4 separate regions of the Homo sapiens genome follow, and regions 1, 3 and 4 are each linked to region 2. A link means that fine-mapping ties the variant in region 2 to the plasma level of a protein whose gene starts in the linked region. Region 2 holds a variant in brackets. A gene starts in each other region. All regions are shown on their forward strands.

The links. PIP is the chance, under the fine-mapping model, that this variant and not a neighbour inherited with it causes the effect. Protein levels are from antibody-based Olink assays in UK Biobank. Linkage for the fine-mapping came from a reference panel and not from the study's own genotypes, which makes the PIPs less certain.
Region 1: it holds the start of TIMD4, and the variant in region 2 is fine-mapped to the plasma level of the TIMD4 protein (UK Biobank, PIP above 0.99).
Region 3: it holds the start of IL27, and the variant in region 2 is fine-mapped to the plasma level of the IL27 protein (UK Biobank, PIP above 0.99).
Region 4: EBI3 starts here. The variant in region 2 is fine-mapped to the plasma level of the EBI3 protein (UK Biobank, PIP above 0.99).

The regions. Positions count from the first base shown.
Region 1 is chr5:156,962,502-156,970,589 of GRCh38, forward strand. TIMD4 (T cell immunoglobulin and mucin domain containing 4) reads right to left here and starts at 725. Exons shown (of 9, transcript NM_138379.3): 1 at 640-725. The coding sequence starts at 697.
Region 2 is chr20:35,564,095-35,572,197 of GRCh38, forward strand. It overlaps the pseudogene FER1L4. Among named protein-coding and RNA genes, the nearest start is that of ERGIC3, 26 kb to the left of the region's middle. The variant A/C (reference allele first, on the strand shown) is at 3,999.
Region 3 is chr16:28,499,131-28,507,224 of GRCh38, forward strand. IL27 (interleukin 27) reads right to left here and starts at 7,704. Exons shown (of 5, transcript NM_145659.3): 1 at 7,651-7,704; 2 at 4,748-4,920; 3 at 4,565-4,663; 4 at 2,846-3,004; 5 at 232-790. The coding sequence starts at 7,681. The coding sequence ends at 521. RefSeq lists enhancers at 133-633, 634-1,134.
Region 4 is chr19:4,225,131-4,233,232 of GRCh38, forward strand. EBI3 (Epstein-Barr virus induced 3) reads left to right here and starts at 4,393. Exons shown (of 5, transcript NM_005755.3): 1 at 4,393-4,487; 2 at 6,061-6,193; 3 at 7,999-8,102. The coding sequence starts at 4,421. RefSeq lists a silencer at 1,378-1,578 and enhancers at 4,613-4,702, 5,666-6,167.

The DNA of each region.
Region 1 (8,088 bases), not on the chromosome of region 2:
CAGGTCTCTCATTTCAAATATGGGAGAGCCAGAGCAATTTAGACATATTCCCAGTGTCAACAGTTAGTGCCCGAGACGCAGCTGCAGCTCAGGCCAGAACACTTGGCTCTATACCACCAGGATGCAAAGAACTTCACTGGCCAAAACTGAGTGTGTACACTTGCATCATCCAAAACCCAAAAACAACGTGCAGAAAAGAAACCTTACATAAAGCCTCACCCCAGCAAAACAAAACAAAAAGCAAACACTTCTAAAAACAGAGGGAATGATAAGAATTATCACAATTCTCACCAGAACAAATTCTCCTGGCTTATTGATTATATGAATAACACCCATAGAGGAAATCTCTTTTCCCCAATTTATCTGACCACTTATTTCTGTGTCTCTTCTTCAGTTGCTGTTTCCAATATAAGCCCAAATTACCCCAGCCTAAAACCCCCAGACCAGTCTCTGGATAAACCTCTGTGTAACAAGGCAGGACAGAGACCCTCCACAGAAGGAAGCCTGGTAGGGAGAGGGGAGGGATGCAGAAATGAAGTGAGCTTCTGCTTCACTGAGGCCCAAACCAGTGCATGGAAATCCATCACACAATAGCAAGTCCTCTGGAAACTTCTACATAGAAGGTTTCAGAACACTTACTCAGGTAAAGCCACCAAAACTCAATCATCAGCCAGAGAATGAGAGGTTCTTTGGACATTTTGACGGTTGACCGGACCCAGGAGTCTGTCTATCTATCCAAAGCCCAACCTCTTATATCCCAGTTAATGCTGACAGGGTGGGACTCTTTAGTTTCATTTCTCTTTTTGCCTCATAATCTTCCCTTTCTCCTGTCCTACATGGCTTCCCCCAATGGGCGATGCATGATGAAATGTGCTGAGCCCTTTTCTCCTGGTGACTAGTGTGTGTGTGGAGGGATGGCGTGGACATACTTGTGCTTCTTTGTCCATGTGTATAGTGGGTTTCCTATATGTGCACAAGCATCCATGCATGTGCTGGTGCAAATATGCCTGTATAACCTGTGCATGTGCCACAGTTGTCCCAACTGCTGTACAGCCTGTCACAAAGTGCAATTGACTCTCCATACTGGCAAGTGTTTACATGTAGATTCCTCATGGGGCCAAAGCATAGTTAGACTGAAAGTTGCCTCCATTCCCATTCTAGGTTCTCCCTCACCCTGTCCCCTGGCCTCCTTGCCCTAATAATGGAGAAAGAAAAGTGAGGACAGGCACAGTGGCTCACACCTGTAATCCTAGCACTTAGGGAGGCCGAGATGGGAGGATCGCTTGAGGCCAGGAGTTTGAGACCAGCCTGATCAACATGGCGAAACCCCATCTCAATTTTTTATTTAAAAAAAAGTTTAATAAAAAAATTAAATTTTTTTTTAAGTTTTAGGAAGACACTGAAGCCCAGAACTTCCTGATTCCAAAGCTTATGGTTAATCACTACATTGTCCTTTGACCTGTGACCGTTTGGGTAATGTATCCATATGATGAGGCCTACCTGTGGCTAGCTCCTACTTAGTACCAGGAAGAAAATATAAGAATTCACAAATGTTCTAGATTTTTAAAAATCCTTAATTGATTGTAAACAGCCAGCAAACCTCAAACATTCAACATTGCTTCTACTGAAGGTATCAGTGAAAAATCTAAATATCAGGTGAGGTTCTAGACCCAGAGAAGCCAGACTAACATGAGCAGGGATGAAAATAACGGGATTCAGAGTGAATCTTCCCACTGAATGCCCACAGAACCAAGGGATCCTTTCCCCATTCTATCCCAGGAAACTGGAGGATTTAATCTCTGGATAAACTAAGTGGTCCCAATAAAACATTTTCAGATATTTATAGTTTTGAGTGTTCCCCAACAAAACCACTCAACCCTCCTTCAATAAGTTCATCAGTGCATGAGCCTCAGCCATGCATGCAGAACTGTTAATGAGTCTTTAGTGTCCCTTTCAGATATGAACAGATAACCAGGGATCATCAGACATTTGAGGAAAGCATTTAACATAAAAAAGAGACAAAAATAACAGGGAGAGCTAAAGAGAACTTCAAAAACTTTTTAAAAAGCTAATATTTTCTCAGAAAGAAAGATTTTACATTCATGAAAAAGAACATAGACATTATAAAAATGTCCCGAATTTTATGGAAGTTTTGAAAAATAAAGTTAAGAAAATTTGTTAGAAATTATAACCATCTACAAAGTCAAAGGACTAGGATTGTTTCAGAACATTAAAAAAGAAAATAGAGGAGAGGAAATTACTAAAGAAATAATAAAGGAAAGACTCTCGTAACTAAAGGAGATGACTCTCAGTATTGAGCGGGTCAATCAAATGCTAAACTCAATGAATAAAAATATCCCCAAAAAGCAAGACATTATCATGTAATATGAGAACATCAGACATAAAGAAAAGATACGAAAAGACTCCAGAGAGAAAGAACAACATATTGCACTGAATGGATTTGGAAATAGAATGGCATTGTTGTTCCAAACAACAAAGCTAGAAAATAATGCACGAATGCCTTCAAAATTCAGAGGGAAGGCCGAGTGTGGTGGCTCACATCTGTAATCCCAGCATTTTAAGAGGCCAAAGTGGGTGGATCACTTGAGTCCAGGAGTTCCAGAATAGCCTGGGCAACATGGTAAAAACCTGTATCAGCCGGGCGTGGCGGCTCACGCCTGTAATCCCAGCACTTTGGGAGGCCAAGACGGGCAGATCATTTGAGGTCAGGAGTTCAAGACAAGTCCCAGCAACATGGCAAAACTGGTCGCTACTAAAAATACAAAAATTAGCTGGGTGTGGTGGTGCATGCCTGTAATCCTAGCTACTTGGGAGGCTGAGGCAGGAGAATCACTTGAACCCAGGAGGCAGATGTTGCAGTGAGCTGAGATCATGCTACTGCACTCCAGCCTGGGTGACAGAAGGAGACTCCATCAAAAAAAAAAAAAAAAAGAGGAAAAGAAAATCTATATCTGCCAAAAATACAAAAAATTGGCCGAGTGTGGTGATGCGCACCTGTGGTCCTAGCTACTCCAGAGGCTGAGGTGGGAGGATTGCTTGAGCCCGGGAGGTGAAGGTTGTAGTGAGCTGAGATTGTGCCACTGCACTCCAGCCTGGAAAACAGACAGAGAACCTGTGTCCAAAAAAAAAAAAAAAAATCCAGAGGAGAAATTTAATTTCAACCTAGAATCCTACTCGCAGACAATCTATTTCTCAAATGTAAGATCATAATAAAGGCCTTTTTGGACATAGATTCAAAATTTACTTACTATACTTCCTTTCCTAGAAGTTATGGAAGAGAAATCTGTAGCAAAACGGGAGAAATAACCAGGAAACAGAAAGTCATGGGGTCCAGAAAACATGACATCTAACTCCAGGGAAGAAAAATTTCACAAAGAAAACTGCAGAACAGACCTAGAGGGGAACTGTTTCACTGCATCACAAACCACCCCAAAACCTAGTGCCTGAACAATGTCAATGTACTTTTCATGATTCCCTGGGATGACAGTGTTCAGCTGGGTAGCTCTCACCCAGTGACAGTGGCTATCTCAAGACTAGATTGGACTATTTGTCCAAGATAACTTTCTCACTCACATGACTGATCATCCAAAATGACACTTCTAGCTGGACTTGTATGTCTAGCAAATTAATAGAATGACTAGAAGAGATAGGGGCTGGACTGACAACTGTCTCTCTCCACATGACCTTTCTACATGGAAGCTTGGGCTTCCTTACAGTATGGTGGTCTCAGAGTAGTTGGATTTTTTACATAGGATCTGGCTTTCTCAAAAATTAGCATTCCAACATGCTCAGGAATAATCCACAAAGGTTCTTATGACCTAGCCTTAGGTAACATTCAGTATCATTTTTACAGTATTTTATTGGTCAAAAGGCAAATTATAAGGCCATCCCAGAGAATTCAAGTGGAGGGAGCAATACAAGGATGTGAATGCGAGGAAGTGTGGTTCATTGGAGTGGTAGGGGAAGCATCTTTGGAGAATAATTACTTTAATAACCACCTCAGGCTGGGGCAGAAGAGCAGAGGAATAAGCCTTGGGGTGGTGGTAGTGAGTGTCACGAATAAGCTCATGTACTTAGGTAATTTGAAAATAACTTTGATAGGTGTTTGGCAGATATGATGGAATACTTGGGATGAATTTTTTTTTTTTTTTTTTTGAGACAGGGTCTTGCTCTGTTGCCCAGACCGGAGTGCACTGGTATGAACATGGCTTAGTAAAGCCTCAACCTCCAGGCTCAAGCAATCCTGTTGCCCCAGTCTCCCAAGTAGCTGGAACCACAGGTGTGCCTCCACACCCAGCTAATTTGTTTAAATTTTTGTAGAGGCAGGGTCTTGCCATGTTGCCCAGGCTGGTCTCAAACTCCTGGTCTCAAGTGATCCTCCCATCTCAGCCTCCCAAAGTGCTGGGATTATAGGCATGAGCCACTGCCCACAGCCATGGGATGAATTTTTGATGGATACTTGGGAAATTAAGAAAAAAACACAATGAAGGCTGGGTGCAGTGGCTCACGCCTGTAATCCCAGCACTTTGGGAGGCAGAGGCAGTTGGATCACTTGAGGTCAGGAGTTCCAGACCAGCCTGGCCAACATGGAGAAACCCCATCTCTACCAAAAATACAAAAAGTTGCTGAGTGCAGTGGCACATGCCTGTAATCCCAGTTACTTGGGAGGCTGAGGTGGGAGAATCCCTTGAACCAGGGAGGTGGTGGTTGCAGTGAGTCAAGATCATGCCACTGCACTCCAGCTGGGGTGACAGAGCGAGACTCCGTCTCAAAATAACAAACAAACAAACAAACAAACAAAAAATGAGATAATTATTACAACCAGGAAAGATAAAATTTTGTACGAGAAAAGAAATGTAATTATGGTGCATTTGCTAAGTGTGAAAGATATTAATAGTTACATGCTGGTAATAATGTAAAATCTGGCTACTGGCTTAATACACCATTTTTATTTTTATTTATTTATTTTTTTGACACAGGGTCTCACTCTGTCACCCAAGCTGGAGTGCAGTGGTGCGATCTTGGCTCACTGCATGGAATACTTCGGATAAATCTCTGCCTCCAGGGTGCAAGTGATTCATGCCTCAGCCTCCCAAGTAGCTGAGATTACAGTCATGCACCACAATGCCCGGCTAATTTTTGTATTTTTAGTAGAGATGGGATTTCACCATGTTGGCCAGGCTGGTCTTGAACTCCTGGCCTCAAGTGGTCTGCCTGCCTCAGCCTCCCAAAGTGCTGGGATTACAGAAATGAGCCACTGTGCCCCAACTTAACACATATTTTGATTTGACTACACTGGAAAAATTGGTAGAGAGGAAGCGGGGTGGGGGTGTAAGAAAGCCAAAGTCTATTCACCTTTACAGGGAGTCAACAAATAGTGTCTCAAATTGGTCAATCAGACAATACCAGCATAAACACGCTGTGAGTAATATGAAGGTAAAAACCAGAAGAACAAGCTCAAAAGAGTTTAATGCAAAAAAGTGGGAAAGAAATTCACTATTTTTTTAGTTATAAACCTTTTACAACTTGACTATTAAAAATGCATATATTGAGGCCGGGTATGGTGGCTCATGCCTGTAATCCCAGTACTTTGGGAGGCCGAGGTAGGCAGATCACTTGGGGCCAGGAGTTTGAGACCAGCCTGGCCAACATGGCAAAACCCTGTCTCTACTAAAAATACAAAAATTAGCTGGGTGTGGTGGTGTGAGCCTGTAATCCCAGCCACTCGGGAAACTGAGGCTGGAGGATCTCTTGAACCCGGGAGGCGGAGGTTGCAGTAAGCTGAGATCGCACCACTGCACTCCAGCCTGGGCAACAGAGGGAGATCATCTCAAAATAAATAAATAAGTAAATAATAAAATAAAATAAAATGGCTATATTGAGCATACCTAGCACCCACATCTTAATTTCTAATTCCATCCTCCCATAAAAAGAACCAGGGCTTCTTGGAGAAATGGCTGACTCTAGTACTGAGGTGAAAAACATACGGACTGAACCTGGAACATCCTGCAATGTCAGTAAGTAACAGCAAGAAAGTGCTTAAAAAAAAAAAAAAAAAAGGAAAATTAAAAAAGAATCCCACAATAATGAGATTATTTTAAAGAGCAAAGGAGATTATCAAAAGAGCTTCCAAAAAGCTTTGGCTCCACCTCAAAGCTGGAACAACCTGAGCAACAAAATAAATAGAAGAATACTGGATTATAATCCAAAGTATAAAATAAATATCTGAGTCCATACTGACAGAAGTAAATTATGACTCCATAAATAAGTAGGGGAGAATAGACAAATCTTCTCCCCAGAAGCATTATAAATAATTTATGTAGATACTCCCCACTCAAGGAGATAAAGCCTAACTCCCCACTCTTTCAGTGTGGGTTTGACCTACTGACTTCTTTCAAAAAAATACAATGGGGAGTGGCGGGGCAGGAGTAGCTTTACAGTAGAGAAAACTGACAAATACTACCTCAGGCGCCTGTTGATCAAGATCAACATCAACAATCAGTTGAGTTGATAATATGTACCCTTGACATGATGTAATATAAGGGTCACTTTATCTCTATGGACTTCCTCCTCAAAACCCATGACACTGACATGAAGAAAACAGGCAAAGTGAGGTGGTTCACACCTGTAATCCCAGCACTTTGGGAGGCTGAGGTGGGAGGATCACTTGAGCTCAGGAGTTCAAGACCAGCCTGGCCAACATAGTGAGACATTGTCTCTATTTTTGAAAGATAAATTAAATAAATAAATAAATAATAAACTTAATGTAGTATCCCAGGTGGGATCTTGGCACAGGTAAAGGCCATTAGCTAAAAAGTAAGAAAATATAAATAAAGTATGGATTTTAGATAATAATAATGTACCAATCCTGATTCATTTATATGATTTGATTTGATTGTTATTATTATTTTTTGAGACAGAGTCTTGCTCTGTTGCCCAGGCTGGAGTGCAGTGGCATGATCTCGGCTCACTGCAACTTCTGCCTCCTGGGTTCAAGCGATTCTTCTGCCTCAGCCTCCCAAGTAGCTGGGATTACAGGCACCTGCCACCACACCCGACGAATTGTTTGTATTTTAAGTAGAGACAGGGTTTCACCACATTGGCCAGGCTGGTCTTGAACTCCTGACCTCAAGCAATCCACCCACCTTGGCCTCTCAAAGTGCTAGGATTACAGGCATGAGCCACAGCGCCGGGCCGGTTCATTAATTTTAATAAATATATCACACTAATATAAGATGTTAATAATAGGGGAAACAGGTGTATGGTACATAAGAACTCTGTTGTATTATCTTTGATTTTTCTGCAAATCTGAAACTGCTTTAAAATAAAATTCATTTTTTAAAATGCACATATTCCTTTGTTTTAAGAGTGTAAATGTTAAAAGTAATCTAGTATCTGGAGGGGTCAAACACCGGAAAAAGAGACTAAACTTGGTTGTCTCTTCCTAAGTTAGATTCCATGATCAAGTTTCAGAATATTCACAAACATCCTAATATTTGATGCTCAGTTTTTATTAAAGCATATTATTGACAGAGTCCAAAGCAGTGCTGGATATTTCATGTTTTTGCCACCTTCATTCTCTGCATTTGGAGGTTTGCCTCTGGAGAACCGGACTTCCCTCATTCTCAGTCAATGCAGTTCAGGTGGCGTTGATTTCATTCATGGGCACAATTGGCTCAAGGATAGGCAATTGACTCAAATGAAGTCAAGGATACACAATCTTGAGATGTTTATTGTGACTTTTAACAGATAGAGACCCTCTCTATTTTCCTGTGGTCTGAGCTGTGAGGAAGTGAGCTGGAAGCTAATGTCAGCAGTCTTGCCACCAACGAGGAAAGCCTACCTCACAAGAGAACCAATCAAGCAGAAGGCAAGTGAGGAACTAAAGCAAGTCTAGGTCTATGACATGAGTGGAATCCCTGAAACAAGGCACATCAATGAGGCAATACATTTCCTTCTGGGCTTAAGTCAATTTGCATTGGGTTTGCAGTCATTTGGAATCTTAATTCTGAAAAAAACAAAAACAAAAAAACCCTCTGCAAAGCGAGAATTTGGCTGGATGATTTT
Region 2 (8,103 bases):
GAGGTCTAGGTTCAAAACTCCCAACGGGAGACAGGTTAGTCCTCATTTATGATAACAATGAATGAAAAAAATGTAGTCCAGGTGCTTCCATTAAGAAGATACTGATCTTATTACCTCTGTTTTGCAGATGAGAAAACAGACTTGAAGAGGTTAAGTGGGCCTGGCATGGTGGCTCACACCTGTAATCCCAGCACTTTGGGAGGCAGAGGTGGGTGGATCACTTGAGGTCAGGGGTTCAAGACCAGCCTGGACAACATGGTGAAACCCTGTCTCTACTAAAAATATAAAAATTAGCTGGACATGGGGGCCCACGCCTGTAATCCCAGCTACTGGGGAGGCTGAGGCAGGAGAATCGCTTGAACCCAGGAGGTGGAGGTTGCAGTCAGCCGAGATCGTGCCACTGCACTCCAACCTGGGAGACAGAGCGAGACTGTTTCATAAAAAAAGAAAGCGGTCAAGTGACATTCGTTACAGGATCCCGACTCCCAAGCCCAAGTCTTGACCACTGAGCTATGTCTTGGTTGGCAGTGGCGGTGGGTGGGAGGGTCCCCTTCCATGAAATCATAGGATCTGGAGAACACAAAAGGGAATGTGAGCTTGAATGTGTTTGGCCAGAAACTCAGAATGGCTCCTGTGGGCCCTGCTGGACCCACACTTCATACTGGGAGGCCAGCCCACAGTTTGCTCTGTGGTGGCTATAGAATCGGTTTTCCAGATCAATGTGGGTCTCCCCGATGAGGTCGTCAGAACCCACGAGGTCATGATCAAATACGGCGACCGTCAGCTCCGTCTCAGCTGGGAGAGAGATGCTTAGCTCCAGGATCCTGGCAAGGAGGGAGAGGGACTGAGGTCACTTCCATGCTCCAGGAGGTGGTCTGGGGAGGAGGCGGGTGTGTCAGCATCCCCTGTCCATTCCCTTGCCATTCCTAGGCCAGCTGCCACAAGGCCACAGGGCTGGATGCTCCTGCAGCTACCCCGTTTCCACCCCACAGGGCCCAGCCTCACTCTCCAAAGATGGGGTTGAGCTGCTTGGGGATGTAGCGTTCCTTGGTGTCCTGCCGCTCCCGGCCAGCGCTCACCACCACGTAAGGGTCTGCTTTGCCATTGGGGTCTGCAGGAGCCAGGTTGGTAGCCTAGGGGAACAGCATGGAGTGGAACTGAGAGAAATGTCATTATGATAACCCAAGGTTACCTTTGTAGGACCTAATTTCCCATTGGGTGAAAGCAGGAAGTTATCAAGGAGAGATCTCCCACTGTGAGGAGCTAATGGAGAGGTTGGACAAGATGACTTTTATTTTCAATTAGTTATGAAATAGTTAAGTCATACAAATAGGTATAACAAAAAGTGTAATGAAACAAAATATTTTGAAAGATGTATAACGGACTTACTATTCAACTCATAACTTTCTATATGGTTTGACTTATTTTTTAATTTATGAATTTTTTTAATAGAGATGAGGGTCTCACTATGTTGCCCAGGCTGGTCTCAAACTCCTGGGCCGGGCGCAGTGGCTCACACCTGTAATCCCAGCACTTTGGAAGGCCAAGGCAGGTGGATTATTTGCAGTGAGGAGTTTGAGACCAGCCTGGCCATCATGGAAAACCCCATCTCTACTAAAAATACAAAACTTAGCCAGGCGTGGTGGCGCACACCTGTAGTCCCAGCTACTCAGGAGGCTGAGGCAGGAGAATGGCGTGAACCCGGGAGGCGGAACTTGCAGTGAGCCGAGATTGCGCCACTGCACTCCAGCCTGGGCGACAGAGCGAGACTCCGTCTCAAAAAAAAAAAAAAAAAAAGAAAGAAAGAAAGAAAGAAATTACATCCTGTGTAGTTTTTTTCCCCCCCTTTTTATAGAGACAGGGGTCTCACACTACATTGCCAAGGCTGGTGTTGAACTCCCGGCCTCAAATGATTTTCCCACCTCAGCCTCCCAAAGTCCTGGGATTACACAGTGTGAGCCTCTGCACCTCCAGCCCTGTGTAGTTTCTTGACTGAAAGTTGTTGGGTGATTTTTTCAATTGTTGTTTGCCTAAAGAGGTCTTTCATTTTTTTCTCTCTTGAATGAGTGTTTCCTGGGACACACAATTCAAGGGTGATAGTTATTTTTCTCTCAGTGCTTTGAAGATATTATTCTATTTTTCTTCCAGCACTTTTGGTTGCTGTAGAGAAGTTGATGGGCTGACTGTCATTCCATTGTGGTAATCTGTACTTTCTCTATGATGATCTTTACATCTTTTTAATTTAGAGATTGGGTCTTGTTCTGTTGCCCAGGCTGGTCTCGAGAACTCCTGGCATCAAGCAGTCCTCCCACCTCAGCCTTCTGAGTAGCTGGGGTTACAGGCATGAGCCACTGTGCCAACTTGATTTTTTTTTGGTATTTATATTTTCCATAGCACTTATGCTTTCTTCTTTTTTTTTTTTTTTTTTTTCCCTGAGACAGAGTCTCGCTCTGTTGCCCAGGTTGGAATGCAATGGCATGATCTCGGCTCACTGCAACCTCTACCTCCCAGGTTCAAGGGATTCTCCTGCCTCAGCCTCCCGAGTAGCTGGGATTACAGGCACATGCCACCACACCTGGCTAATTTTTGTATTATTAGTAGAGAACGGATTTCACCATGCTGGCCAGGCTGGTCTCAAACTCCTGACCTCAGGTGATCCGCCTGGCTCAGCCTCCCAAAGTGCTGGGATTACAGGCGTGAGTTATCACGCCTGGCCACACTTATGCCTCTCTAACGCACTGAAACATTTACTTATTTTGTTAATGTTTGTTTCTCCTACTAGAATGCAGTCTTCATAAAGGCAAAGCTTTTTTTCTCCTTGTGATTACATATTAATTTTATTCTTTGAAATCTCTTTCTTCTCTTGTCCTGTCCAAATCCTACTTAGAGATACTCAGTCAAGCCTTAATTTCCTGTGCTGGCTCGGCTCAGTGGTTCATGGCTATAATCCTAGTACTTTGGGAGGCTAAGACAGGCAGGAGCTCAGGAGTTCGAGACCAGCTTGGGCAACATGGTGAAATCCTGTCTCTACTAAAAAATAGAAAAAATTAGCTGGGTGTGGTGGCATGCGCCTGTAGTCCCAGCTACTTGTGGGGGCTGAGGTGGGAGGATCGCTTGAGCCTGGGAGGTCAAGGCTGCAGGGAGCCGTGATCATGCCACTGCACCCCACCCTGGGCAACAGAGTGAGACCCTGTCTCAAAAAAAAAAAAACCCGCGAATTTACTGCAGAGACAGTAATAAAGGAGTATGGTAGTGGCATAAACATAGATCAGTAGAATAGAACTGAGAGTCCAGAAAGAAATCCACATATCTATGGTCAATTGATCTTCAACAAGGGTACCTAGACCATTCAATGGGAAAAGAACCATCTCTCCAACAGATGGAGCTGAGACAACTGGACAGTCACATACAAAAGTATGAGGTCAGACCCTCACCTCACACTAGATACAAAAACTAACCCCAAATGGATCACAGACTTAAACATGAGAGTCAAAACTCAAACTCACAGCAGAAAACAGGCAAAAGTCTTCATGACCTTGGATTTTGCAAAGGTTTCTTAGCTATAACCAAAAAGCACAGTCAATAAAAGAAATAAAAATAGACTTCATCAAAATTAAAATCTCTTTTGCTTTAAAGGACACTATCAATAGAGTGAAAAGACAACGTAGAAAGTGAGAAAATATTTGCAAGCCATATAAAAATCTAGTAGCCAGAATATACAAAGAACTCCTACAACTCAACAACAAAACAACAATCTAATTTTAAAACGGACAAAGGACTTTAGACATGTCTCCAAGATATACAAAGTTCTAAAAACCACATGAAGACTGTTCAGTGTCATTAGGAAACAAATCAAAACCACAATTAGATACCACTTTATACCCACTAAGATGATCTTAATTTTTTCTTTTTCTTTTTTTTTTTTTTTTGAGTCAGAGACTCGCTCTGTCACCCAGGCTGGAGCGCAGTGGCGCGGTCTCGGCTCACTGCAACCTCTG[A/C]CTCCAGGGTTCAAGCGATTCTCCTGCCTCAGCCTCCTGAGTAGCTGAGATTACAGGCGCCTGCCACCACGCCCGGCTAATTTTTTGTATTTTTAGTAGAGACTGGGTTTCACCATGTTGGCCAGGCTGGTCTCGAACTCCTGACCTCGTGATCCGCCCACCTCAGCCTCCCAAGGTGCTGGGATTACAAGCATGAGCCACTGCGCCTGGCCTGACATTCATTTTTTTAAAAGGACAATAAAGGCTAGGAGCAGTGGCTCATGCCTGTAATCCCTGCACTTTAGGAGGCCTAGGCGGGTGGATCACCTGAGGTCAGGAGTTTGAGACCAGCCTGGCCAACATGGCGAAACCCTGTCTCTACTAAAAATATAAAAATCAGCCAGGCGTGGTGGCGAGCGCCTGTAATTCCAGCTACTTGGGAGGCTGGGGCAGGAGAATCGCTTGAGCCCAGGAGGAAAGGGTTGCAGTGAGCCAAGATAGCACCACTACACTCCAGCCTGGGTGACAGAGCGAGACTCTGTCTCAAAAAAAAAAAAAAAAAAAAAGAAAATGTAAGTTATATTCTGGCACTCCTTTGCTCAGAACCTTCCTATGGCTTCCCATGTAATTCAGAATAAAGTGAATAACAAAACCCAACATGATCTGCTTTCTCTGCCCATCACTGCTCCATTTCCTCTGAAGCCTTAATTCCTAAAACCTGTTCATTTATCCTGCCTGCTACGGCCACAAGGGGCCCCTTGTTGTTTGTCACACACGAGTCATGGTTCTACCTGATGGCCTCTGTACCAGCTGTTCTGCCTGGAATGCTTTCTCCCTCAGGTAGCCACCTGGATAACTCCTTGGCCCCCTCCTAGTGTGTATTTAAGAGACAGGGTCTCTCTCTGTCACCCAGGCTGAACTGCAGTGGTGGCATCACAGCTCACTATAGCCTCAACCTCCCAAGCTCAAACAATCCTCCCATCTCAGCCTTCCTAGTAGCTGGGACTACAGGTGGAAGCCACTGTGCCCAACTCTAGTATTTGTTTAAATAACACTTTCTCAGCCGGGCATGGTGGCTCATTCCTGTAATCCAGCATTTTGTAGTTCGAGACCAGCCTGGGCAACATAGCAAGACCTCGTCTCTACCAAAAAAAAAAAAAAAGTCTTATTGAGGTCTATCAACTCCGACCATCCATTTGCAACCCACCCCCAGCACTCCCCCATCCCTTTATCCTGACATATTTTCTCCACAGCACTTATAATTTTCTAACATATAAATAAGATATATAACTTTTTTTTGTTTTGAGATGGAGTTTCGCTCTTGTCGCCCAGGCTGGAGTGCAGTGGTGTGGTCTCAGCTCACTGCAACCTCTGCCTCCTGGGTTAAAGCAATTCTCCTTCCTCAGCCTCTTGAGTAGCTGGGACTACAGGCATGTGCCACCAGGCCTGGCTAATTTTTGTATTTTTAGTAGAGACGGGTTTTGTATGTTTAGTAGAGACAGGAGTTCGGGCTGATCTCGAACTCCTGACCTCAGGTGATCTGCCCCCTCCTCAGACTCCCAAAGTGCTGGGATTACAGGCGTGAGCCACCATGCCCAGCCCGTAAGCTATATAATTTACTTATTGATTATGGTTATTGTTCATCTCTTTTCACTAGAATGTAAAGTTCACGAGGGCACTGATTTTCATCTGTTTTACTCACTGCTTTTTATCACCAGTACCCAGAACACTGCCTAGTACCTCATAAAAAATGCAAGAAAGGCCGGGCACGGTGGCTCACACCTCTAATCCCAGCACTTTGGGAGGCCAAGGCGGGCAGATCACCTGAGGTCGGGAGTTTGAGACCAGCCTGACCAACATGGAGAAACCCTGTCTCTACTAAAAATACAAAATTAGCTGGGTGTGGTGGTGCATGCCTGTAAACCCCAGCTTGAGGCAGGAGAATCGCTTGAACCCAGGAGGCGGAGGTTGCAGTGAGCCGAAATTGCGCCATTGCACTCCAGCCTGGGCAACAAGAGCGAAACTCCGTCTCAAAAAAAAAAAAAAAAGAAAAAAAAATGCAAGAAATACCTGTGGAATAAATGTTTGTGAGTGAAACTGGCCTAGAATTATACTTTCTCATGTCATTCTTCTCAGGTTTTGCATCAACATTATGCCACCCTCATGGAATTAACTGGGGTATTTCTTTTTATATTCTCTGAAATGGTTTGTGTAAGATTAAAATTGTTTCATCCATAACTGGTGGAAACTGCTGCTGAGACCATTTGGTCTGGAGTTTCTGACACAATTTCTTTTAATACTTATAGTACTATTCAGGTTTTCTGGCCAGGTATGGTGGCTCATGGCTGTAATCCCAGCACTTTGGGAAGCCGAGGTGGGTGGATCACTTGAGGCCAGGAGTTCAAGACCAGCCTGGCCAACATGGCAAAACCCTGTCTCTACTAAAAAATAGAAAAATCAGCCAGGCGTGGATGCAGGCACCTGTAATCCCAGCTACTCAGGTAGCTGAGGCAGGAGAATTGCTTGAACCTAGGAGGTGGAGGATGCAGTAAGCCAAGATTGCACCACTGCACTCCAGCCTGGGCGACAGAGCAAGACTATCTCAAAAATAAGTAAGTTTTCTTCCTTTTTTTCTGGCACACTGCATCCTCAGTGGCTCAAGCAATCCTCCCACCTCAGCCTCCTGAGTAGCTGGGACAACAAGCAGGAACCACCACGTCCAGGTAATTTTTATTTTGTTTTTATTTTTTATTTTTTTTTTTGAGACAGAGTCTAGCTCTGTCGCCCAGGTTGGAGTGCAGTGGCATGATCTCAGCTCACTGCAACTTCTGCCTCCCAGGTTCAAGCAATTCTCGTGCCTCAGCCTCCCTAGTAGCTGGGACTACGCACATGCCACCATGCCCTGCTAATTTCTGTATTTTTAGTAGAGCATTGGGGTCTTACCATGGTGGCCAGGCTGGTCTCAAACTCCTGACCTCAGGTAATCTGCCCACCTTGGCCTCCCAAAGTGCTGGGATTACAGAGGTGAGCCACTGCACCTGGCCTAACTTTTAAATTTTTTTGTAGAGATAGGGTCTCAGCCGGGCACAGTGGCTCATGCCCGTAATCCCAGCACTTTGGGGGGCCAAGGGGGGGGCGCGGATCATGAGGTCAAGAGTTCAAGACCAGCCTGACCAACATGGAGAAACCCTGTCTCTACTAAAAATACAAAAAATTAGCTGGATGTGGTGGCAGGCGCCTGTAATCCCAGCCACTCGGGAGGCTGAGGCAAGAGAATTGCTTGAACCCAGGAGGCGGAGGTTGCAGTGAGCCGAGACTGTGCCACAGCACTCCAGCTGGGGCAACAGAGTGAGACTGTGTCTAAAGAAGAAAAAAAAAGTGGACGTTGTAGTGAAGGGATTGGGAGGAGATTCGTGGATGTAATGAAGATACAGCTTAGACTACAGGCTGTATCTATTTTACAGGGGAGAGCCAAAGGATAAGACAGCTGGGAGGAGCTCTCCTGGGGTTAAAACAAATATCAAACACTAACCTCAGAAAGTATTCATTGGAAAGAGCCACCATTTGATTAGATTTATTTGTAGAGGATTTTATGCTCCCAGGATACTACTGCAAATGACAGAGCAATAAGTAGAGCTTAACTGGGTGTGGTCAGGGAAAAGAATGCAAGAGGGCCCTACCAGTACCACTGTCATCCTAGGGTGACAGTGGTATATCCAAAGCTGCACCTGCCAGAGTAGCAACATCAGTGATCTAACACAGGGGATGGGAAATAGACTTTGCTAAAATAATCCAGCCAGTCACTAAACAAATAAACAAGCAAATAACAAGAAACCTCAGTACCCAGAGTTGCTATCATATATTATCTAAATGCTGTTTCCAACAAAAAATTATGAGGCCTGCAAAGAAATAGAAAAATTATTTTTCCATCCACCCCCCAAAAAATGCCCGTGAGAGCAACACAATGTTGAACTTAACAGGAAAGTATGTATGTGTGTGTGTGTGTATGTATGTATGTATGTATGTATGTATCTATCTATCTATCTATCTATATATATATATATATATATTTTTTTTTTTTTTTTTTTTTTTTTTTTGAGACGGAGTCTTGCTCTGTCGCCCAGGC
Region 3 (8,094 bases), not on the chromosome of region 2:
AGATGAGCTGCCTTGAGCTTCCAACACGGTAGCTCGGCCTCAGGATGCTGCTGGTTACTATGGCAACTGCCTGCCGGAGCAGGACATAGTAGGGGAAGGTGGGCCAGAGACCCCAAAAATGTAGGAGCAGAGAGGGGTTCAGGATGGCTAGAGGTTGCTGACCCCGTTCCAGGCTGCCCTGCCCTCTGGGTGTCAGACAGCCCTTACCCGAAGAGAAGCGGAGGCCAGGGGTGGATGAGAGTGCTTTATTGGGCACCCAGCATGGGGGCTTGGCCCGAGGAGGACCATCGGGCCCCAAGACAATAAATAAACCATCATCTCCCTAAACAATAAATAAATATCCAAGAAATAAATAGCTGGCGAGGACCAGAGGGGCTTTCAGTTACTGGGTAGAGCCTGGGGCAGGGGGCTGGAAGAGCCCTCCCTTGTCCAAGGCTGATGATGCGAAGGCTGCCCTGATGCCAAGACTCCAGTCCTAAAGTTCTAAAGGGTGGGGGGCAGGGGGCTAAGAAGCCACCGATCAGGGCTGGGGGCTCAATGTTGGGAACCCCAAGGGCCAGACTGAGTGCCCAGCCTTGGACAGCAGCAGCAACTCCCGCACGGCCCGAGATAAGACGAGCTCCAAGGAGTGCAGCAGGCGGTAGGTGGAGAGGAGCTGGGGCCAGGACACCTGGGCCGGGCCCTGTAAGGCGCTGCCCAGTGCCCCTGGGAGCAGCCCCTTCCTCTCCTCCTCCTCCTCCTCCTCTTCCTCCTCCTCCTCCTCCGGGAGGTTGAATCCTGCAGCCAGCACCTGTGAGGAGAGGCCATGGGTCAGGGAGGGGCCAGGCCGAGAACCTGAGAGGAATCCTCATTCCCTATTCATGCCCAGCGGTTCCCAATGACATCAGTGACCACAAGGTCATGATTTCCCCGGACATTCCCTGCTTGATCTTCCATGATGTCACCTGCTAACGCGTCTCACCTGATCTTTCAGTTCGAGAAAATGGAAGTCAAGGAGCAAGAGGATGCTCACAGAGCTAGATCACCCCAAGGACTGCCCCGAGGCGTGGGGTTCAGGAAGTTTCTCTCTGCTGTGAAAGTTGCTTTTGGGTCGGGTCAGCAACAGGCAGAGGGTGACATAGCTCAGATTCCCTGCTGCTTGCCATTCCTCTCTCTCTCTCTTTCTTGGGAGCCCCGCTCTGTCGCCCAGGCTGGAGTGCAGTGGGGTGATCACGGCTCACTGCAACCTCTGTCTCCCCAGTTCAAGCAATTCTCCTACCTCAGCCTCCTGAGTAGCTGGGACTACAGACGCGCACCACCACGCCCGACTAATTTTTGTATTTTTAGTAGAGATGGGGTTTTACCATGTTGGCCAGGCTGGTCTCGAACTCCTGACCTCAAATGATCCACCCGCTTTGGCCTCCTAAAGTGCTGGGATTCCAGGCGTGAGCCACCACGCCCAGCCCTGCTGCTTGCATTTTCTATTCTCATTTCATTAAGTGTAAAATTCTGATTTCCCTTTGAAAGGTTCTGGAGGATCTGGGTGACATCAGAGAATCAGAGGGAGAAAGGAAACAGGAGGCAGACGCTGTGCTGGGCACTCAGGACACACCCCGAGTGACCTCACAGCCCAATGGCCTCCTGTTGAAGATAGAGCCCCAGGAGAATGTGAAGATTGAGGGGCAGCACCAGGGCCTGGTGTGGCTGTGTGTGCGCCTGCACACACGCACACACTCACACACATACTCATTCTCACAACGCACCCACACTCATTCCCATACAGTCACATTCACACAAAACACATTCATGGCTGGGCACAGTGGCTCACGCCTGTAATCCCAGCACTTTGGGAAGCCGAGGCGGGCAGAGCGCGAGGTCAGGAGTCTGAGACCAGCCTGGCCAACATGGTGAAACTAAAAATACAAAAAAATTAGCCAGGCATGATGGTGCACGCCTGTAGTCCTAGCTACTCAGGAGGCTGAGGCAGGAGAATTGCTTGAACCTGGGAGGCAGATGTTACAGTGAGCTGAGATCGCACCGCTGCACTCCAGCCTGGGCGACAGAGTGAGACTTAGTCTCAGAAAAAAAAAAAAATCGTTCACGTACCCACATACTCTCACACTCACACTCATCCTCACACACTGACATACCTATACCCAAACTCTCACCCACACACCTCACTTTCACACTCACAACACTCACATTCACACACCCACCCACACACTCCCACACTCTTACACTCACAGTCCCATACACTCACAGTCTCACACTCATGGACCTACACACACACGGTCACGCTCACACTCATACAGACCCACACACACTCACAGTCACACCCACACACTCACACACTCACAGCCACACACTTTCACACTCAGACCCACACACTCACAGTCACACTCACACACGGACGCACATACACACAGTCATGCTCACACTCATACAGCCCCCCCACACACACACTCACAGTCACACCCACACACTCTCACAGTCAGGTACACTCACACAGACCCACACACTCACTCTCACACTCACGGACCCACACCCTCACACACAGTCATGCTCACACTCATACAGACCCACATGCACTCACAGTCACTCCCACACACTCTCACACTCACAGACCCACACTCACACACTCTCACAGTCACACTGTCACACTCATGGACCCACACAGTCACACTCACTCTCCCACACTTACGGACCCACACAGTCACTCTCACACTCATGAACCCACACACTCATGGACACTCAGTCACACTCACACTCTCACACTCACACACACTCAGAGCATGGGATCACTGAATGAGCCAGCGAGTCTTCTTTCCCACGTGGTCTGGGGTGGTGGAGGGTGGCCGGGCTCTACCTGGAAGCGGAGGTGCCGCTGCAGATCGCGGAGGTCCAGCCTCATGGCCCACAGCTGCATCCTCTCCATGTTGGTCCAGCGGCCCTGGGTCCCCAGCCCTCCCAGCAGGGCATGGAAGGGCTGAAGCGTGGTGGAGATGAAGCAGAGACGCTCCGGGTCCTGAAGGGGAGGGAGATGGTCAGGAAAGGTCCACAGGCCAAGGATGGCCATATCACACCCACCCCCTCCCTATCCGGGTCTCCTTCCCATTCCACGCTCCAGCCTCCAGTCCATCCCTGTAGCTCTTCCCCCACCTCAGCCCAGCTGTGTCCCCATTCCTTCCATCTCCACTGTCTGGGACATTTGTCCCATCTCCTTTTCCAGCCTCCCTTTCACTCCTATGCCAATGATCTTCTCTAACCCACCCCCTCTCAGTCCCTGAAGCACTCTCCATCCACAGCCCTGTTCCCTTCCCTCCTCCACCATCCCATCATACCTCCTGCCCATGTGTTTCCATCCCATCTTCAGCCTCATTCCCATTCCTAACCCCAACTCCATCCTTCCTCCATGTGCCCAGACTCACTCTTTCCATCTTTCCATCCCATCTCCAACCTCATTCCTAACCCTATTCCATTCCCTTCCCCACCAGCAATCCCCATCCCTTCTCCATCCCATGCTTAACGTTCACCCTCATCATCACCTTCTCATCTCTAACTATCCGCATTCTCACCCCCAGTGCCACCTCCACCCACCCTCCATGCTGCTGTGATCTGTCTCCAGCCTCATTCCAGTCCCATGCCTGCCGCGTTCCATGCCTAGCTCCACTCTTACCTCTTCCCAACCCCACTTCCTTATTCCAGCTTCATCTTTATTGTTGGTTTGTTTTGAGATGGAGTCTCGCTCTGTTGCCCAGGCTGGAGTGCAGTGGCGCGATCTCATCTCACTGCAACCTCCACCTCCTGGGTTCAAGTAATTCTCCTGCCTCAGCCTCCCGAGTAGCTGGGATTACAGGCGCACAGCACCATACCCGGCTAATTTGGTATTTTTAGTAGAGGTGGGGTTTCTTCATGTTGGTCAGGCTGGTCTCGAACTCCTGACCTCAGGTGATCCACCCACATCAGCCTCCCACAGTGCTGGGATTACAGTCGTGAGCCACTGCGCTCAGCTAATTTTTGTATTTTTTAGTAGAGATGGGGTTTCGCCATGTTGGCCAGGCTGGTCTTGAACTCTTGACCTCAGGTGATCCGTGCTCCTCAGCCTCCCAACGTGCTGGGATTACAGGCATGAGCCACCACGCCTGGCAGTTTATTTATTTTTCTGAGACAGGGTTTCCCTCTGTTCTCCATCCTGGAGTCCAGGATCATAACTCACTGCAGCCTCCAACTCCTGAGCTCAAGCAATCCTCCCATGTCAGCCTCCTGAGTAGCTGGGACCAAAGGTGTACACCACCATGCCTGGCTAACTCTTAAATTTTTTTTTGTAGAGACAAAGTTTCACTATGTTGCCCAGACTGGTCTTGAACTCCTGGCCTCAAGCAGTCCTTCCACCTGGGCCTCCCAAAGTGCTGGGTTTATAGGTGTAAGTCACCATGCCTGTCTTTCATCTCTATGTCCAATGACATATTCAGCCTTATCCAGGTTCTATCCCCAATGCATCTCCAGCTCAATCTCCAGCCTCATCTTGCACCCTGGCCCCAGCCTATCACAAGCTTCCCGCCCCACTCCACCAGCCCTCACTCACAGAGAGGCGGCGCCAGGCCTGGAAGGTCAGGGAAACATCAGGGAGCTGCTCTCCCAGGGGCAGGAGGTACAGGTTCACTCCTGGCAGGTGAGATTCCGCCTGGGGGGCAAGGTCTGTTAGTGGGGGCCAGAAGGGATTGGGGGTCTGCCCATCTCCAGCGCCAGCTGCATTAGGGGGACTTACAAAGCGGTGGGCCTGGCCCCGAACCTCGGAGAGCAGCTTCCTGGCGAGATGCAGGCTGACTGTGAACTCCCTCCGCAGCTCCTGCAGGCTCAGCTGGGGCCTCCCTGGGGGCCTTGGGAATCCCCAGACACCAGCTTGAACCAGGAGCAAGGGAAGCAGCAACAGGCTGAGCCCTGGAGAGATGGGAAGAGGGTGGCAAGACAGGGAGAGAGCTTGAGAAGGAAGGGAACATGCCTTTTCTGAGCCTGTGCTAGCTGTGAGCACGGTGCAGGCACTTTGACCAGCATCATTCCTCTGCCTCCTCAAAACCACAATGGAGGCTGGGTGCGGTGACTCACACCTGTAATCCCAACAATTTAGGAGACCGAGGCGGGCGGATCACCTGAGGCCAGGAGTTCAAGACCAGCCTGGCCAACATGGCGAAACCCTGTCTCTACTAAAAATACAAAAATTAGTTGGGCGTGGTGGTGCATGCCTGTAATCCCAGCTACTCAGGAGGTTGAGGCAGGAGAATCGCTTGAACCTGGGAGGCAGAGGCTGCAGTGAGCTAACACCACTGTGCTCCAGCCTGGGCGACAGAGCCAGACTCTGTCTCAAAAAAACAAAACAAAACAAAACAAAACAAAACCCCACGATGCAGCCAGCACGGCCCCCATATGGCATCTCCGCATGGTGTGCCCACTTTTGCAAAAAGACCAGAAGCCTGATCCTTTTTTTTTTTTTTTGAAACAGAGTTCTGTTCTATCACCCAGCCTGGAGTGTAGTGGTGTGATCACAGCTCACTGTAGCCTTGAACTCCTAGGCTCAAGTGATCCTCTCGCCTCAGCCTCCCAAGTAGCTGGGATCACAGGGACACACCACTGTGCCTAACTGTTTCTATTTTTTTGTAGAGACAGGGTCTCACTATGTTGCCCAGGCTGGTCTTGAACTCCTGGCCTCAAGAGATCTTCCCGCCTCAGCCTCCCAAATTGCTGGGATCACAGGCATGAGCCACTGTGCCGGGACAGAGACTGGATTTTGACCCCCATAAACTCCCTTGGCCAAATGCCTTTTTCAGTGAGCAACCTGCACAACCACGTGTGGCAGCCTCAGTGCTATTGTTCTCCCCAATTTGCAGGTGAGGCTCAGTGAGGTTGACTTGCCCAAGGTCAAATAGCCAGAAGGTGGGAAGCCAGGACTGGATTCCAGGTTTTTCCAAATGCAGAGCCCATGGGTTTTCCCCAGAGAATGCAGAGGGAGGCAGCCATCTGCCCCAGGAGTGGGCACACCATGTTCTGGCAAGGATTCTTTGGGCTCAGCCAAGCGGCTCTGATGGCTTGAACTGGCCATGAGGTCCCCAGGGATGGGCTGGCAATGCCAGAGGCTCTATTCCAGGGAGTCAAAAGGACAGGTTTGTCCAGTTTCCACCACGGCAGGTGGATCCTAGCAGGGTAACCTGCCTGGGGCGAATCCACAGTATGGGAGCTTTTTTTTTTTTAAGACAGATTCTCACTCTGTCACCCAGGCTGCAGTGCAGTGGCGCGATCTCGACTCACTGCAACCTTCACCTCCCAGGTTAAAGCAATTCTCCTGCCTCAGCCTCCTGAGTAGCCACCACGCCTGGCTAATTTTTATTATATTTAGTAGAGAGGGGTTTTGCCGTGTTGGCCAGGCTGGTCTCCAACTCCTGACCTCAGGTGATCCGCCTGCCTTGGCCTCCCAAAGTGCTGGGATTACAGACATCAGCCACTGCGCCCAGCCCAGAATGGCTGAATTCCGAGTGTGCTTCCTGACCTGTGTTTTCCTGGAAAGAGGGGCAGCGGATGGGCGCTCTAGGAAGAGGGCAGCATTCATCAATTTCCCCCTCAGGGAGAGGAAATCTAGCAAGCACAAGAGTTACACAATTCTCCTCGAAACACAAACCAAAACTGGCCCGAAGTCCATCCTGCTCTCCCTTCTCTCCCTGCCTCTTCCCTGTCCTCTCTCAATCTCTAACCCCTGGGCTCTGCTCTTCGAAATGTCCCCTGATAAAGGTGAAGGGGAGCTTCTAGGGACATCTACCTCCCTCGTGGGCTTGCAGATGTGGTGGGCGATGCCTAACGTAAGATCTCTGGCATTCAGACTCCCTGGTTTTGGGGCCACTCGGACCCTCTGACATCCTGGAGACTTAAGGCAGAGTGGGGTTCTTCCTAGCTCAATGTTGGGGACAGGGTGGGTGCCCCCAGGCCCTGGTGGATCAAGCCCAACCGTAAGTGAGCTGTGCCATCTCCAACCTGACCTCTGGAGACCCCAGACCCCCTCCTTACCCTCTGCAGCTGATCCTGGGTCATTGGCTCTGGCCTTTGAAGGCTCTGTCTCCATCCTCCAGCCTTTGGTCCCTACCTGCCCTACGTGGCATGTTACCTTCTCCACTGCCTACTGCTCTGGTTCTAGCCCCTGAGTTCTGCAGCCACCAGCCGCAGATTGGACCTCTTTCCAACATCAAACTAAAGACCTTTGACCCAGTGAGGCTGCTGACATCTTGGTCCCAGTGCTCCACTTGTGCCAGCACCTCGTTCTGCTCTTCCTCCAGCCGGCCCCATTCTCAGTCTTAGCCAAGCTGTTTGGCTTCTGCTTATTCACTCCAAACTCTTCATTTATCTGCCTAGACCTGGTCCTTGTCAAATTGCTGGTCCAACCCTCCCCATTCCCACTAGCCAAGGCCTCCTTCTCATCCTCTGCCCAGCCCTGGGTCAGACCACCACCCCACTGCCCCAGGCCCCCACCCAGTCATGCCAGCCTCCCTTCCCATGCAGCAGCCAGCCGAATCCTCAGTCTTGGCCAAGTTGCTGCTCTCAGCTCTCGACCCCCCATCTGCACCAGCCAAGCTCGTCCATTCTCTGCCCAAACTCAACCAAGCCCCCCACCCCTGGCTTCAAACTCACGCCAGCCAAGGTCGCCTGCCGTCTGGCCCATGGCGGGGCCCAGCCTCTTTGGTCAGCCATCTCCTGGGTAGGGGGGGTCTTATACTGGGGGCTGTGCCCGGTTTCACTTTCCGTCCTGCTTGTACTTTCAGCTTTGTGTTCACTCATTCTTCCCTCTCGCCACCCCTTGCTAAAATGGGGAAATGTAATTTCCCTTCCCGGAGGGGGTGGGAGGTATGATGGGGGGTGACGGGAAGCTGGGGTTTCGGGACATCCAAGCTCCAGACTCACTGCTAAGCTCCCACGTCCAGCCCTGTCCTCAATGTCCCATGCTTGGGTGAGCCATCCAGCCCTATTCACTGGTTGATCCCAGAGTCCCAAACCCCCTCCTGATTCTCGGCTCTGCCACCATCATCCTAGGGTCTACTGTCCTTCCAAAGATGGATAGCCAGGTAAGGGGATTGC
Region 4 (8,102 bases), not on the chromosome of region 2:
TTTTAGTAGAGACGGGTTTCACCATGTTAGCCAGGATGGTCAATTTCCTGACCTCATGATCCACCCGCCTTGGCCTCCCAAAGTGCTGGGATTACAGGCTTGAGCCACCGCACCTGGCCTCTTTTATTTTTTTTTATGCGGAGTCTCCCTCTGTCACCCAGGCTGGAGTGCAGTGGAGTAATCTCGACTCACTACAACCTCTGCCTCCCGGGTTCAGGTGATTCTCCTGCCTCAGCCTCCCGAGTAACTAAGATTACAAGGCATGTGCCACCACACCCGGCTCATTTTTGTATTTTTAGTAGAGACAGGGTTCCACCATGTTCGCCAGGCTGGTCTCGAACTCCTGACTTCAGGTGATCCATCCGCCTTGGCCTCCCAAAGTGCTGGGAATACAGGCATGAGCCATGGTGCCCGGCCTTTGGATAAACTCCATCTTAATGCAATATTTCAAAAAGGCAAAATGGGTGCAAAAAAAGTGCATGCTGAACTAAGTATGGAAATGTTAAAGAAAGGCAGGCTTGGCCGGGTGCGGTGGCCCATGCCTATAATCCCAGCATTTTGGGAGACCAATGTGGGAGGATCTCTTGAGCCCAGGAGTTGAAGACCAGCCTGGGCAACATGGGGAAACCCCCATCTCTATCAAAAATACAAAAATTAGCTGGGCATGGTGGCGCGCACTTGTGGTCACAGCTACTCAGGAGGCTGAGGAGGGAGGACCGCTTGAGTGCAGCAGTTAGAGGCTGTTGCACTTCAGCCTGGGTGACAGGGCAAGACCCTGCCTCTAAAAAAAGATTTAAAAAAAAAAAAAAAGGAAAGAAAGATACTTTCCTAAATCCTAAGGCTGGCCATGGTGGAAGCCCCCTACCCCCAGCCTCTCCCTGCCCCTTGGCAACTCCCCCGAAATCCCCACGGGTTTCTTGGCATTTTTCAGCAAACAGAGGGGAGGCAGGAGTGGGAGCGGGGATCCCCGAGCCTGTCCAGCCTGCCCCTGGGGGTTTCCTTGTTCCTGGGCATCCTGATCGCTGGGATATCTGCGGTGGCAGCTGCCTCCCCTGGCCTGCGCTCCTGTGTCTCTCTCTGTCTCTCTTCTCCATGTCTCTGTCTCTCTCTTTTTTTTTTTTTGAGATAGATTTTCGCTCTTATTGCCCAGACTAGAGTGCAATGATGCGATCTCGGCTCTCTGCAACCTCCACCTCCCGGGTTCAAGCAATTCCCCTGCCTCAGCCTCCGGAATACCTGGGATTACAGGCACGTGCCACCATGCCCAGCTAATTTTTGTATTTTTAGTAGAGACGGGGTTTCACCATGTTAGTCAGGCTGGTCTCGGACTCCTGACCTCAGGTGATCCACCCATATTGGCCTCCCAAAGTGCTGGGATTACAGGCGTGAGCCACCGCACCCAGTCTCCACGTCTCTGTCTCTATCTCTTGGTCTCCATCTGTCTGTCTTGCTGTTTTGTCTGTCTCCCTGTGTCTTTGTCTGTGTCTTCCTCCTCTCTTATCTCTGTCTCTCTGTGTTTCTTTTGCTCTGTCTCTGTCTCTCTCATGTCCCCATCTCCCATCTCTCTGTCTCTTTCTATCTCTGTCTTCTTTTTTTTTTTTTTTTGAGACGGAGTCTGGCTCTGTCGCCCGGGCTGGAGTGCAGTGGCGCCATCTCGGCTCACTGCAAGCTCCGCCTCCCGGGTTCACACCATTCTCCTGCCTCAGCCTCCTGAGTAGCTGGGACTACAGGCGCCTGCCACCACGCCCGGCTAATTTTTTTGCATTTTTAGTGGAGACGGGGTTTCACCATGTCAGCCAGGATGGTCTTGATCTCCTGACCTTGTGATCCGCCCGCCTCGGCCTCCCAGAGTGCTGGGATTACAGGTGTGAGCCCCCACGCTCAGCCTTTTTTTTTTTTTTTTTTTTTGACACAGAGTCTCACTCTATCTCCCAGGCTGGAGTGCAGTGGCGTGACCTCGGCTCACTGCAACCTCCTCTCACTGCAACCTCCGCCTCCCAGGTTTAAGCGATTCTCCCACCTCAGCGTCCCAAGTAGCTGGGATTACAGGTGCGCACCACAACGCCCAGCTAATTCTTGTATTTTTAGTAGAGACGGGGTTTCACCATATTGGCCAGGCTGGTCTCGAACTTCTGACCTTGTGACCCGCCCGCCTCAGCCTCCCAAAGTGCTGGGATTAGAGGCGTGAGCCACCACACCCGGCCCTCTGTCGTCTTCTCTTATCTCTCTGTCTCTCTTTCTGTGTCTGTCATCTCCCCGTATCTCTATTTCTGTCTTCCTGTCTTCTTTCTGTCTCTCTTTTGTCTCTCTTTCTCCATCTCTGTCATTGCCCCATCAGTCTTTTTGTTGTTGTTGTTGTTCTTTTTGAGATGGAGTCTCACTCTGTCACCCAGGCTGGAGTGCAGTGGTGTAATCTTGGTTCACTGCAACCTCTGCCTCCCAGGTTTAAGTGATTCTCCTTCCTCAGCCTCCAGAGTAGCTGGGATTACAGGTGCCTGCCACCACGCCCAGCTAATTTTTGTATTTTTAGTAGAGACAGGGTTTCACCATTTTGGTCAGGCTGGTCTCGAACTCCCAACCTCAGGTGATCCATCTGCCTTGGCCTCCCAAGGTGCTGGGATTACAGCCGTGAGCCACCGTGCCCCACCATCTCTCTATCTCTGTCTATCCTACTCTCTCATCTCTGTCTCTCTGTCTCTGTCTCTCATCTTCCCATCTGTGTCTCTCTTTCTCTGTCTTCCTCCCTTATCTCTGTCTCTGTGTCTCTCTCATTTCCCTATCTCTGTCTTCCTCTCTTATCTCTGTCCCTCTGTCTCTCTTCCTCTGTCTGTCTGCTCTCTGTGTTTCTCTTTCTGTTTCCATCATCTCCCTGTCTCTCTCTGTCTCTGTGTCCTCCTCCTCTCATCTCTGTCTCTGTCTCTCTCATTCCCCTGTCTCTCTCTGTCTCTATCATCTCCCTATCTATCTCTGTGTCCTCCTCCTCTCATCTCTGTCTCTCTCTGTGTTTCTGTCTCTGTCATCCCCCTTTCTCTGTCTCTGTCATCTCCCTGTCTCTCTATCTCTGTGTCCTCCTCCTCTCGTCTCTGTCTCTCTGCCTCTCTCATCTGTATCTCTCTCTGTCTCTGTCATCTCCCTGTCTCTGTCTCTCTCTATCTCTGTGTCCTCCTCTCATTTGTCTCTCTGCCTCTCTCATCTGTATCTCTGTCACTTTCTCTGTCATCTCCCTGTCTCTCTATCCCTCTATCTCTGTGTCCTCCTCTCATCTGTCTCTCTGCCTCTCTCATCTGTAGCTCTCTCTGTCTCTGTCATCTCCCTGTCTCTCTATCCCTCTATCTCTGTGTCCTCCTCTCATCTGTCTCTCTGACTCTCTCATCTTTGTCTCTGTCTCTGTCTCTGTCATCTCCCTGTCTATCTCCGTGTCCTCCTCCTCTCATCTCTGCCTTTCTCATCTCTGTGTCTCTCTCTGTGTTTCTGTCTCTGTCATGCCCCTTTCTCTGTCTGTCATCTCCCTGTCTCTATCTATCTCTGTGTCCTCCTCCTCTCATCTCTGTCTCTCTCATCTGTATCTCTCTCTGTCTCTGTCGTCTCCCTGTCTCTCTATCTCTTTGTCCTCTTCCTCTTGTCTTTCTCTCTGCCTCTCTCATCTGTGTCTCTCTCTGTCTCTGTCTCTGTCATCTCCCTGTCTCTGTCTCTCTCTCTCTGTGTCCTCCTCCTCTCGTCTCTTTCTCTCTGCCTCTTTCATCTGTGTCTCTGTGTCTCTCTGTCATCTCCCTGTCTATCTCTGTGTCCTCCTCCTCTCGTCTCTGTCTCTCTGCCTCTTTCATCTGTGTCTCTCTGTCTCTGTCTCTGTCATCTCCCTGTCTCTGTATCCCTCTATCTCTGTGTCCTCCTCTTCTTGTCTCTGTCTCTCTGCCTCTCTCATCTGTGTCTCTCTCTGTGTCTCTGTCTCTGTCATCTCCCTGTCTCTCTGTGTCTTCCTTCTGTCTTCTCTGTCTCTCTGCCTCTCTCCCCCATCTCTGCCTCTGTCTCCCTCCATGTCCCTGAGCCCCTGCCTGCCTGCCTGGGGTTTCCCCCGCTTCAGGGCAGCGGAAGGAAGGCCAGCAGGACATGCTGTGCTGGGAAAAGCCAGCAGGTCTCCACTTCTCCCTTTCACAGCCTCCTCCCCCGCCCCCACCCTCGGGGCCTTCCGAGCAGGGGTGGCCTGTGCTCCCCAGGGGGCTGGGGCTCCTCCACACCCTAATTCATCTCCCTAGCGGCCCCACGAGCCCCACCAGTGAGTCAGACCTGAAGGAAGTCGGGGAGGGGGCGGGCCTTGACCCTGGGCTGGGCTTTCCCCTGGGCAGGTCCCAAGTCCTCACCTCCCCTCTCAAGTCTCCCACGACGTTCCCACCCACTCCTGAGAGCAGAGCTGGCCGCAGCCATGACCCCGCAGCTTCTCCTGGCCCTTGTCCTCTGGGCCAGCTGCCCGCCCTGCAGTGGAAGGAAAGGTATGTGGGGCCCCTGGGGGACTGGGGGGCCCAGGCAGACGGACATGACACGAGGACTGGCCTCGGATCATGTCTGGGGTGGGAAATCACATCCTCCCGTGCCCAATGGTGGGATGGGGTTACCCTCCCATTGTACAGATGGAGGAACTGAGGCACAGAGAGGCAGAGTGCCACATTGGGGGTGGAAGGATGTCACCTTGTGGGTGATAGGGACTGGCAGTCACAGCTCAGAGGTATCCATAGAGCTACACAGACATAGCTACACAGACATGCGAATTTGAGTCACACTCATTCCTTTGGTTTCTTTTTGGTTTTGTTTTTTGAGACAGAGTCTCACTCTGTCGCCCAGGCTGGAGTACAGTGGCACCATCTCAGCTCACTGAAACCTCCATCTCCTGGGTTCAAGCGAGATTCTCCTCCCTCAGCCTCCCGAGTAGTTGGGATTACAGGTGCCCGCCACCATGCCCGGCTACTTTTTATATTTTTAGTAGAGATAGGGTTTTACCATGTTGGCCAGGGTGGTCTTGAACTCCTGACCTCAGGTGATCCACCCACCTCGGGCTCCCAAAGTGCTGGGATGACAGATGTGAGCCACCGCGCCCGGCCGACATTCATTCATTTTGCACTAGAGAACATCTCCATGTCCTTGAAGACAAAATGGTTACAGCAGGGCATGGTGGCTCATGCCTGTAATTCCAGCACTTTGGGAGGCCAGGGCGTGAGGATCGTGAGGCCAGGAATTCGAGACCAGCCTGGGCAACATAGTGAAACCGGACCCCACCAATCTGTACAAAAAATTAAAAAATTAGCTAGATGTGGTGGCACGTGCCTGTAGTCCCAGCTACTTGGGAGGCTGAGGTGGGAGGATAATTTGAGCCCAGGAATTGGAGGCTGCAGTGAGCTATGATTGTGCCACTGCATTCCAGCCTAGGTGACAGAGTGGGATACCTTGTCTCAAAATAATAATAATAATAATAATTTATAGGCTGGGTTTGGTGGCTCACGCCTGTAATTCCAGCACTTTGGGAGGCCAAGGCAGGTGGATCACCTGAGGTCAGGAGTTTGAGACCAGCCTGGCCAACATGGTGAAACTCCCTCTCTACTAAAAATACAAAAATTAGCCAAGCGTGGCAGTACATGCCTGTAATCCCAGCTACTCGGGAGGCTAAGAATCGCTTGAACCCGGGAGGCGGGGGTGGCAGTGAGCCGAGATCTCGCCACTGCACTCCAGCCTAGGCGACAGAGGGAGACTCCCTCTTTAAAAAAAAAAAACAATTACAAAAGAGAGAACACGGTAAAATCTCTCTCTCTTACCCGAGTTCCTCTCTGTAGATGCTTAAACCTCAGCTTCCCTATCTGGAAAATGGGCTAGTAGTCCTCACCTAGATGGATTGCAGTGGGGATAAAAGATGACAGATGACTTTTGTCCATGTACCTATTTATTCCGAAAGCCTTTATTAGGCACCTACCATGTACCTGGTGCTGGCTGGCAACGTGGCAGGAGCCCAGCGCACGGGAGGGCTATGACAATCTGGGGGTAAACCAGAAGCTCACTCTTTCTGTCTTCCTCCAGGGCCCCCAGCAGCTCTGACACTGCCCCGGGTGCAATGCCGAGCCTCTCGGTACCCGATCGCCGTGGATTGCTCCTGGACCCTGCCGCCTGCTCCAAACTCCACCAGCCCCGTGTCCTTCATTGCCACGTACAGGTCGGAGAGCCTGGAAGGGGGCCTCAGGGACACTGGACTTCCTGGAGAGCCCAGAACTCTGGCCCTGAGAGCCCTGGGGTCAGGAAAACTGGAGACCCCGACATCCTGAACCCCAGGCCTATGGAATTCTAGGGCGGCCCCGTCCAATAGAAATATACTTTCTGGGCCAGGCACAGTGGTGCATGCCTGTAATCCCAGCGCTTTGGGAGGCCGAGGTGGGCAGATTGCTTGAGGTCAGGAGTTTGAGACCAGCTTGGGCAACGTAGTGAGACACTGTCTCTACGAAAAATTTTAAAAATTGGTCAGGTGCAGTGGCTCATGCCTGTAATCCCAGCTACTCCGGAGGCTGAGGCAGGAGAATAGCTTGAACCCAGGAGGCGGAGGTTGCAGTGAGCCAAGATGGCACCATTGCACTCCAGCCTGGGCAACAGAGCAAGACTCCATCTCAAAAAAAAAAAAAAAAAACTACTTCCTGGGTTGGGCACAGTGGCACATGCCTGTAATCCCAGTACTTTGGGAGGCTGATGTGGGAGGATCACTTGAGGTCAGGAGTTTGAGTCCAGCTTGGGCAAAATAGTGAGACCCTGTCTCTAAAAACAATTTTTAAAATTAGCTGGGCATGGCCAGGCGCGGTGGCTCACGCCTGTAATCCCAGCACTTTGGGAGGCCGAGGTGGGCGGATCACAAGGTCAGGAGATGGAGACCACCCTGGCGAACACGGTGAAACCCTGTCTTTACTAAAAATGCAAAAATTTGCCAGGTGTGATGGCACGCGCCTGTAGTCCCAGCTACTCGGGAGGCTGAGGCAGGAGAATTGCTTGACCCAGGAGGTGGACGTTGCAGTGAGCCAATATTGCATCGCTGCACTGCATCCTGGTGATAGAGTGAGACCCCGTCTCAAAAAAAAAAAAAAAAAAAAAAAGAAAAGAAAAGAAAAGAAAAGAAAAGAAAAAATTTCGAAAAAGAAAAAAAAATTAGCTGGGCATGTTGGTACTTGCCTGTAGTCCCAGCTACTCTGGAGGCTGAGGTGGGAGGATCACTTGAGCCCAGGAGTTTGAGACCAGCCTGGGCAACATAGCAATATCCTGTCTGTACTTAAAATCAAAAAAATTAGCTGGATGTAATGGCACACATCTGTAGTCCCAGGTACTTGGGAGGCCGAGGTGGGAGGATCACTTGAGCCCAGAAGTTCAAGACCAGCCTGGGCAACATACTGAGACCCCCCCCCATCTGTAGAAAAAAAATTTAAAATTAGCCAAGAGTGGTGATGCGTGCCTGTAGTCCCAACCGCTCTGGAGGCTGAGACAGGGAAGATCCCTTGAGCCAGGAGTTCAAGGCTATAATGAGCTAGGATCATGCCACTGCACTCCAGCCTGGGCGCCAGAGGGAGACCCTGTCATGAATGAATGAATGAATGAAGGGATGAATTAATGAATGAATGAAGGAATGAATTAATGAATGAATGAAGGAATGAATTAATGAATGAATGAACGGATGAATGAATGAATGAATGGATGGATGAATGAATGAATGCTGACATCCCAGAAACCTTTAGAATCCCGGACCCTAGCATCTAGCTTGGGTTGTAATCCCCGACCTGAACCATCAGGGGCACCGTGATGTTGGGGCCCATGCCCTGCCCCCGGGGGGTGGCACGGCCACCACCAGGACCCCACCCCGGGATCCCCATCCGCTGCCCCCTCCTGTTCCTGCCTCTCCTTGGGGTCCCGGGTCAGGCCCGGCAGTAGGAGGTGCTGAGGCCACAGGCACTCCCTGAGGCGCTCAGCGAGCCCCACCCTGTGCAGGCTCGGCATGGCTGCCCGGGGCCACAGCTGGCCCTGCCTGCAGCAGACGCCAACGTCCACCAGCTGCACCATCACGGATGTCCAGCTGTTCTCCATGGCTCCCT